Linked DNA regions of Homo sapiens. The protein of the gene in region 3 purifies or fractionates together with the protein of the main gene of each other region. This does not show direct contact. Each region holds a gene or a part of one and is shown on either strand. Other genes may lie near its edges.

Evidence for each region.
Region 1: the proteins of PHF6 (region 3) and TACO1 purify together in Homo sapiens (affinity purification with mass spectrometry, with the first as the bait; one large-scale study listed by BioGRID). This does not show direct contact.
Region 2: the proteins of PHF6 (region 3) and LRPAP1 purify together in Homo sapiens (affinity purification with mass spectrometry, with the first as the bait; one large-scale study listed by BioGRID). This does not show direct contact.

Annotation. Positions count from the first base shown.
Region 1 is NC_000017.11:63,603,804-63,606,444, reverse strand, and holds part of TACO1 (translational activator of cytochrome c oxidase 1), read right to left. Parts: intron 1,912-2,641; coding exon 1,805-1,911; intron 133-1,804; coding exon 5-132; intron 1-4. UniProt on the Homo sapiens protein: Acts as a translational activator of mitochondrially-encoded cytochrome c oxidase 1.
Region 2 is NC_000004.12:3,525,875-3,529,530, forward strand, and holds part of LRPAP1 (alpha-2-macroglobulin receptor-associated protein precursor), read right to left. Parts: intron 1-3,656. UniProt on the Homo sapiens protein: Molecular chaperone for LDL receptor-related proteins that may regulate their ligand binding activity along the secretory pathway.
Region 3 is NC_000023.11:134,411,169-134,414,824, forward strand, and holds part of PHF6 (PHD finger protein 6), read left to right. Parts: intron 1-2,319; coding exon of another isoform or gene 2,320-2,322; coding exon 2,323-2,489; intron 2,490-2,654; coding exon 2,655-2,798; intron 2,799-3,656.

The DNA.
Region 1 (2,641 bases), on a different chromosome or scaffold from region 3:
TTACCCATTCTTATTCAGGATATGTCTAATGTCTGCTTGGCACTTGTGGCTACTGTTAGATAATGCCTCGATGAGCAGAGAAGAGCCACCAGGGCCTCGACCCTCATACAGCAAATAAGTGTCCTTGGATTTCTGCAATAAACAACACAAGCACATTTTCCTGTTTCCCAATTCCTTCCCACATGTCAGCCCAGAACTACAAGTATCGCAAAACTAACTCCATGGGATGGGCTCTCTAGGCTGGAGCCTGAGCTCTCAATCTTTATTTTTGTCCCCACCCTCTAACCAACTTTTGAGGTAACAGGAAGTACTACCCCTAACTTGGAAGGAGTCTGTTTCTCCGGTCCCTGAACAATCCATCAGCCATCTCTCAGCTTTGCTTCCTACCATCCCTAACCAAATGCCACATCTAGTCCCTACCCAATCCCACTCAGACTCATCCTCCTACACCCCCATCCTGTAAGAAACCCACCGGTCAAGTCTCAAGGTCCCTACCCTGGGCTGCTGAGTACTGCTGTGAAATATCACACACCTAGGCCTTGTCGTAAGAGCTGCTGAAAACAGCATGGTCTCAAAATTGAAACAATTAATCCAGAGCTCTAGGGACTAATCTCTTCTGGACCTTCCATGCCCCTACTCATCCCTTGTCCATGTATTCAATATTCCCCACTCCAAGCACCCTGTCCTGCAACTTTCCAGGAATTCTCAACTCATAACTTCTCCCTTCCTCTTTCACAAAGGTAAAAAGGGCCACTAGGTGGGGAAAATAGTTGCTGTCTCCACCACCTTCTCTGCACCATGGCCTACATGAAGGCAATAAGCATAACGGTTAGAGCACAGGCTCTAAAGTCTGACTATCTGGTTTCAAGTCTGTCATTTTCTATGCGACTTGAGTCAACTCACCTAACATTCCTGTGCCTCAGTTTCTACTTACGGTGGTTTTGAGGATTCGATGAGATAACACACATAGAGTTTTTATCCATGCTTAGCCTGCAGGAAGCACTCAATAATTTTGAGCTATTAAGATAACTATTACTTCCTCAGAGCCTCCCTACCTGCCCCAGAGAAAGGTGTACCCTTACGTGGACTCTATATACCTGCCCCTCCCACCATCTCTATCACCCCCATCCTCTCCCTTTCTACTGGCTTTTCTCCTTTAGGGCATAAACATCTGAAAAACAAACACTTCCTCCACCTAACGTAAGGGCTTTCTCCCACACTGCCCCTTCTTTCTATAATACCTCATCTCCCTACAACTTGGCTGAGCAGTCCCGGTCTTGACTGTATGGCCCTGCATACTGCCTATGCATCCTACTCCCAGTTGTGCTCCTAGAACCAATGACCAAGGACGGTGAGCTCTCAGAAGACTCTAGGCTGAGGGCGTCAACTACATTGCTACCGTTCTCTCTGATAATTTTTTTTTTTTTTTTTGAGACAGAGTCTCGCTCTGTCGCCCAGGCTGGAGTGCAGTGGTGCAATCTCGGCTCACCGCAATCTCTACCTCCTGGGTTCAAGCGATCCTCCACCTCAGCCTCCCCAGTAGCTGGGATTACAAGCATATGCCACCACGCCCAGCTAATTTTTGTATTTTTAGTAGAGATGGAGTTTCACCATGCTGGCCAGGCTGGTCTCCAAACTCCTGGCCTCAAGTGATCCACCCACCTTAGCCTCCCAAAGTGCTGGGATTATAGTCGTGAGCCACTGCACTTGGCCCCTCTGATAATTTACAGTGTGTTTGTTGGCCATCCAGACATGAGCCCGGTAGAGGCTGTGATCAATAAAAAGCATGTCAAACAGTACACACCTCCATTTTCAGTGCTGTCTCAATCGTTGACTTGGGCATATGTTTGCTGCGACACACCTCTAAGATATTGGCCAGGTTGCTGTTGTGCTCAGGGTTGGGGCCTCCTTCTGAGATTTAAAGAAAAAGAAAAAAAAGAGTGAGCAAAGACATCTCATTACAACATGGGAGAATAAAAGGGATTTCCAGCCCCACCAAGCCAAAGGAGTGGCAAATCACCATTTAGCTCTCAGTTACCTTAGAATACCTTAACTAGTGTTTCAGTGGGATACGGAGAAGTATTTTCGGGTTTTTTTGGTTTGTTTTTTGAGATGGAGTCTCACTCTGTTGCTGGCTGGAGTGCAGTGGCACGATCTTGGCTCACTGCAACATCCACCTCCTGGGTTCAAGTGATTCTCCTGCCTCAGCCTCCTGAGTAGCTGGGATTACAGGTGCACACCACCACACCCGGCTAATTTTTGTATTTTTAGTAGAGACCAGGTTTCGCCATGTTGGCCAGGCTGGTCTCGAACTCCTGACCTCAGGTGATCCACACACCTTGGCCTCCGAAAGTGCTGGGATTACAAGTGTGAGCCACTGCCCCTGGCCTGGATAAGTATTTTGGAAAAGTACTTTTTTTTTTTTTGAGACAAAGTCTCACTTTGTCACCCAGGCTGGAGTGCAGTGGCATGATTTTAGCTCACTGTAGCCTCAACCTCCAGGGTTCAAGCGATCCTCCTGCCTCAGCCTCCCAAGTAGCTGGGACCACTGGTGTGCACCACCACACCCAGGTAATTTTTTTCGTATTTTTTGTAGATTCAGGTTTTCACCATGTCGCCCAGGCTGGTCTCAAACTCCTGA
Region 2 (3,656 bases), on a different chromosome or scaffold from region 3:
CAGGCGGCCGAGGCAAGCAGCAGAATGAAACCCACCGGCCAGCTCTCATCAACTCTGGCCTCGGGGCTGGCCCGGCCGCTAAGAGGCGTGCGCTGGGGCAGGCTAGCCCTTCAGGGAAGCGAAGGCTCTTCCGTGCAGAGCAGAGTGGCCCAGCTGTGTGAACCAGAACGTGTCATGAGGTGGGACCAGGGTTCACGGAGACAGGGTGCTGTCCCTGGCTAACTGGGGAGGCTGCACCGCATGCCTGTAGTGACGCCAGCGCATTAAAGCCTCTGTGGAGTCCTGCAGCAAAGGAAGTGCTCGGCACTGTGCAGTGCAGATCCCCAAATCTCTCGGCTCTCAGGAGGGTCCCCTTCCCTGAGCACCTGCATTCTCACATTCCCCCGGGGCTGGTCCTCATGAGCTGCCCGTGGCTCTAGGAGGGAACCCCAGCTCCTGCCTCTGAGCTCCAGGTGCCCATCACCTAACGCCTGTCTCTGATCATGTGTGTTTAAATATGGAGTCTGTTTTCCCTTAGACGTTTGAAATATTAATCTTTTATCTATATTTCATTAGCTATTTTCTAACATAAATACAACACAAGCTAGTATCCAAAGTATGTGTGTTATATTTCAATAAAGTTTACGTAAAACAGTGAACATCCCCACGAAGCGTCAAGAGCCGGCTGCCTTCCCAGTGTCCCGCAGCCCGCGCCGCCTTGTGGCCCACACTGCCTTGCAGCCCGAGACCTCAGGAGGCCCAGCCCTCAGGTCCGCGCCGCGCAGGGGCACACGTTTCTTTCAAGACTCGCACGAAGCCAATTCTGTGTGTTTGGCACACCCCACACTCCGGAACCTCCTCGCCTCACTCTGCCTGTATCTAGACTGAGCCCATCCTGCTCCCTGCAGCTCAGTCTGTGTTGGGCCTGGGAGGAAGGAGACCCCTGACCACAGGCCCTGTCTCCAGCTGGGTGCTGGGGCTGTCAGCTCCGCCCTCTCTTCTCTCAGAAGCCCAGCCTGACTCTGTGGCTGCCCTAGCCACACAGGCCCCACCCTCCAGGAGTTTAAAATTTAGTTAGGGATGAATTCAGATTACTGAGCCAAGATCCCCAATGGTAAAAAGATAGCAAACGGTAGGCACAAAATGAATGGCAGGGCCTAGGGCAGAGGAAAGCTTCTAATTCTCTAGAAGGTTCTCTAACCCTTAGTGGGTGGTCCCAGGACAGTCTTTTGTCTGGGCCCTCCTGGTAGATGCTCTGCGCCCCCATCTCTGCAGGGGCTGCTTTCCAGGATTGTCCCAACCTGAAAACCCTTTCCCTGGCAGCCTTCGACACACCCCTACCTGTGTGCCTCTTCCCCAGCCAGCCCCATCCACCCAGCCAGCCCCATCCACCCAGCCCCTTCTCCCCAGAGCTCCACCCCGTGCCCCTCTGTGCCCTGGACACTTGCCTGCGGCGTCCACTGGAAGGCCCTAGGAGACCTGAGGTCTGATCTGAGCATTCCCAGCAGGAGGACCCAGGACAATGAGGCACCTGAGTGACGCTGAACTCTCAGGAGGGGCAGTCGGTGCCTCAGGAGGAGGGGGAGCCCACACCTGCCTATCTTGTTTGTGACCCAAACTCCTGGAGGAACAGGTCTGCTTCCATCTCTACTTCCCCGTGGCTGCTGCTACCCTGTAGGCGCCTTACTTACCGTGCTGCACTGCCCGGGAGGGTCTGAGATGCGAGGCCCACAGTGATGGTCTGAGCCAGAAGCAGCACCCTGGGGCAGGCAATTCAGGCCCATGCTCTCAAGTGTGTGCTGGCCTTGAGGGGCCCCGGGTCTGCCCTCTTTGGCTGCAGGGGAGAGGATGCAGGTGTCCCATGACTGCCCATGGGCTGCCTGCTGGAAAGCGGAGCTGAAGACCCAGGGCTGCTGAAGTCCTGGGCCCATCCTGGCAGGCTCACAGCCAGGCACCAACCCCTGTAACTTGCAGTCCTCACTGGCTTCCTGTCTGCCTCCCTAGGGTGCTGGGAGAATCAAGGGCAGGTGCTCTGTGGGCTGTAAAATCTGCAACCCACAGGGGAAAGTCATTTTCTCCCTCTGATTCCCCAACTCTCAGGCAACAGGGGGTCTAAATTTCACACCGCATGTCTCACAAAAGCCAGCTCCCTTTCCCCTGATGTGTGGCTGCCAGTGCTCAGCGCAGAAGGGGCCAGCCTGGCAGCACCACCACAAAAAGCAGCCCCAGCTCTGTGCAGAGGAAGACCAGCAGGTCACGTGCAGACCCCAGACCCCACGTCTGGATTCTTTCACCTCTCTCAAGTTAAATGTTAACGCATCAAGTTAGAAGTACCCTGTGGAAACCAACTGCAGAAAAGAACCTGTCAAACATGAAGCAGCGAGGCAAATCATCAACAACCAGGGTATACATGCAGGCAAGAAAGCCGGCTCAGCTGATCAAACGACGCCGGTCCTGTGTCCCCAGACACAAGCAGAGCCGACCGTGTCCTCCTGACCAGACCCAAGGGCCCAGCACTGCTTGGGACCTCAGCAGTGGCCCTTCCCCACACAGCACCACCCGCGTGCCAGCAGAGCTTTCTGGAACTTTCCAATAACCTGCTGCTGCTTCTCAACGCCCCAGGAAACCCAGGCCAGGGTCCACAGCTACACCACTGGTGTCAACCTGCACACACCGCACAGTTCAGGCTGGGCAGGTTCCAATGCCACCAGGACCGCCAATGGACCACCTCTTCAGAGGGCATGTGCCATCCTCCCAGCGCTCACCTGAGTGCCCGCGCCAGACTGCAAGGCACCCACCATGAGGAGCAGGCTGTGGCGGTGACCAAGGCTTCCTGGCACGCTGTACCTGTCTCACCACGGCAGGTGGCATGCACTGTCCCAGCCCAGCCACTGTGCCCCAGCTCCTTCCACCTGAGCTCCGTGGACAAGGGCACAGCCGTACCCGCCTTGAGCTGCTGTGAGGTCATGCATTGGCCTGGCGAGTCCTAGGTGCCCATGGAGGCCACTGGCTGGCCCATCCTCAGAGGCCCTTCTCAAGCCAGGGGGGACGCTTGAGAGCTGGGGTGGGGCTCTGAGGGCTCCTCTCTGCAGACCTCAGTTTCCACTCGTCAGACCTCTGAGAACAAGATGCTTCACACACTCTCATTGCAGTCACCATTCACGTCAGAACTAAGGACTGTCTGCGTGCGGTGCCTCCTGGGACTACACCTGTAATCCCAACACTTTAGGAGGCAGAGGCGGGAGGATCACTTGAGCCCAGGAGTTCGAGACCAGCCTGGCCAACATGGTGAAACCCCGTCTCTACTAAAAATATAAAAATTAGCCAGGCATGGTGGTGCATGCCTGTAATCCCAGCTACTCAGGAGGCTGAGGCACGAGAATCGCTTGAACCTGGGAGGCGGAGGTTGCAGTGAGCCGAGATCACGCCACTGCACCCCAGCCTCGGCGACAGAGTGAGACTCTGTCTCAAAAAAAACAAAAAAACAAAAAACCAAAAAAACTAAGGACCTATGGCCAAGGACTCCGAGCTCATGGCACCGTGCAGCCCAGGCCAAGAGGTACACGAGTGTGTCCCTGAGCGCCGCAGCTGGACCATGCAGACCCTGGAGCTTACTCCTCAGCATCAACACAACACACAGAGCTCTGAAGAGGCAGAGTCCTCAGAAGTCGTCTGTG
Region 3 (3,656 bases):
CTCGAATTCCCGACCTCAGGTGATCTGCCCATGTTGGCCTCCCAAAGTACTGGGATTACAGGTGTGAGCCACCACACCCAGCCCAAATTTACCACTTTTTAATTTATACTTTTCAGTTTGAAAGTCTAATATAGTTAAATATATGAATCTTTCGTGACTTTTACTATTGATGTTAAAGTTGTTAAAAATTTTTGTGGAATGATTTCATATTTAGAACAAATATGACATGTGGGAAACTAATCATGTTGGCTTGATAATGGAATCAGTTCTTAAGTAATTTTTATAGATGTTTAATAAATAACATTATTAAATGTTATAGATGTTTAATAATGTTATTTATTAAACATCTTATTTGTTTATTGTTATTTATTAAACAACTATTAAATGTTATTTAATAGTGTTATGTATGGTGTTAGTGATGCTTATTTTCATAATAGATAACTGAATATATTATGTGTATACATATGTATAAAACAATGTTTTATATATACATACACATAGATGTCTTAGAATGATTGAAACAGTTATGATTTTTCATTTTGAGAATTTTTAATATTTGGCAAGTGCAAGTAATTCTTTTTTGAGATGGAATCTTGCTCTGTCACCCAGGCTGGAGTGCAGTGGCACAATCTCGGCTCTCTGCAACCTCCGCCTCCCGGGTTCAAGCAATTCTTCTGCCTCAGCCTCCCGATTAGCTGGGACTACAGGTGTGCGCCACCACACCCGGCTAATTTTTTGTATTTTTAGTAGAGACGGGGTTTCACCATATTGGCCAGACTGGTCTCGAACTCCTGACCTCGTGATCTGTTCACCTCGGCCTCCCAAAGTGCTGGGATTACAGGCGTGAGCCACCACGCCCAGCCAAGTGCAAGTAATTCTAACAGCTTTTAGTGAAATTCCATGTCTTAAAAATTGTCAGTTTGAATATTTAAATTAAGTAGTGTATTCTGACATGAAGTTTGCTATCGTGTTAAGGAGAGAAAACATCTTTAATTGACTTCTGTGTCTTCACAGGAAGTTATTCACGTGAATTTATTTTGTTGCCTATAAAACACTATGCAATAACTTTTACCTTTTCCCCTTAACTCCCTCAAGTCCCACCAGAGCTATGTGAAGTTGCACTCATGTAAATTGTTATTAACTGTTTTGCAAACAACCTAATACTTGTAGTTCCCTTAATTTATATATATATTCAAGTATACCAACTGAATTGCCCTTTTCTTATAATAAATGTGCTTTCATTTCTAATAAACAACCTTCAAAGTAGTAGGAAAGATATTAACGTCTGAGCATAGGAGTTGATATGCTTTCTCATTGAGAAATTAGTCTCTAGAATTATAATCAATAACATGGTAAAGGAAAAAATGGCGAAAATATTAGAGCTGTGCCTAAAACTTTCCATAGTTTGAGCCTATGGCAAGTGAACATTTGGTTTTTATTACCCTTTTAAACACTAAATATTAATACATTATCTTATACAGAGGCCTTCAATAAATAAAATATTTATAGTAAACTACTGATGAAACACCTTTCATTATGGTAGAAATTCTTTTCAGATTACTGAGAAATGCAGTTCTCAAATTTCTGCGTAAGTTTTGCTTAATTCATTAAAGCATATGCAACTAACTTGCAACATACTTTTTTTACTGCTTGTATTAGAAATTCTTTTTGTACTTAATATTTGTTTAATTACTTGATCCATTAGTTCAATTGTAAATGACTTCCTTGTTGAATTTGTTCATTCAGTTTTCATGATCGTTTGAAGAGTAATCTAGACCAGTGTTATCCAGTAGAACTTTCCTGTGACAGTGGCAACAGTCCTGTATATGTGCTGTCTAATACAGTTGCAACTAGCCACATGTAGCCAATAAGCTCTTGCAGTGCGGTCAGTGTGACTAAGAAACTGAAGTTTTAATTTTATTTAATTATAACTGACTTAAATTTTTTAAGGCCACATGTTGCTAGTGGCTACTACATTGAATAGCACAGATATATCTACTTTATTTTCATTTAGTTTTCCAAGTTACAGTAAGTGTATTTTCTAGGTAAGTGTTCTAATTTTACAAACTCTTTGAAACCTATGGTAAAAAAAAATAATAATGCAAAAGCAAACTCTAAAAATTAATTTACTAAACTATTTGTATTTGATTTTTATTGCATTTATCTGAAACATTGGGTGGCTTTATTGAACATACCACAGACCATTTCTCCTCATTTCTGGAGACAGTTTCATTCTAAGGAGAAACATATGTCCTAAAGACCCATGAACTAATACTTATTTTGAGATTGGTCCATAAAAAGTTTTTGTTCATTTTTAAGCAGCTGATTTAGAAGAAAGTTTTAATGAACATGAACTGGAGCCCTCATCACCTAAAAGTAAAAAGAAAAGTCGCAAAGGAAGGCCAAGAAAAACTAATTTTAAAGGGCTGTCAGAAGATACCAGGTCCACATCCTCCCATGGAACAGATGAAATGGAAAGTAGTTCCTATGTAAGTAAAAAAAACTGTTGGATTCTTACTTTTGTTGCACCATGAATATTTCATTTAAACTATCTATAGGTAAAGTTCATCATTTGAAATGTTAAGTAAGCTTGAAATACCGATAGCATATTTTCATGATTTTTTTTAAGTTCGTTTTTTCTTTTACATTTGCAGAGAGATAGGTCTCCACACAGAAGCAGCCCTAGTGACACCAGGCCTAAATGTGGATTTTGCCATGTAGGGGAGGAAGAAAATGAAGCACGAGGAAAACTGCATATATTTAATGCCAAGAAGGCAGCTGCCCATTATAAGTGCATGGTAAGCATGGTTCTTTTAAGCCCAATTTTGTTTTTTTGTTGTTTGTTTTTCTTTGTTTCCCCTGTGATCTAAAGCCCAAATGATTTTTTTTTTAAAAATCATTTAGCTAGTAACCAAAAAATTTCCCCCCACCAGCATTAGTATTTTAGAGTTATAAACAGTATATCTTATAATCCCAAATCTTAAGTTTAGATTTTGTTAAATTATAGCCTTTATGTTTTAGTAGGATTTGAAGTAATTCTAATTATAGTTACTGTAGTTAGGATAATCTGTAATTAATTATTTCATAACTATAAAAATTTTGTCTTTATAAGCATGTCATGAAATATATTTTAGACTTTCACTATAACCTAATAATTATCTCTGTTGTACTTAACACTCTATATTACAATTATTCATTTATGAACTTATCTTCCCTAACAGACTCTTAAATTCCTTGAAGATAAGAATAAGTTTTTATCTTGACATCCTTAGGTCCATGCCTGACTTACAGTACACATAAATATCTTTGACTTAGATTGTATTGAATGACTCATCCCATTGATAAGGTTTTTAAAATTACATTATTTATGTCAGAGATTCTTAACCAGAGTGCATGTCAGATTTACCTGGTGAGCTTTTTCCGAAATATGTGCATCTAGGCACCCTGTGGAATAGATCTCGTATATGTCTAGTTTGAAAAAAAAAAATACGCGAGTGATTCTAATCTGCATCTATGGTTGAAATTTGCCAATTTAAACTATTTTTTAAAACTTTGTGGAAATGTAAAATAGTTGAGAATAGAGTGACATTGTTGAAATTTTCATTGCTTAAAGCAGGCTATTTAATCTTGGCTCCACACTGGCAGTCCTCATTTTA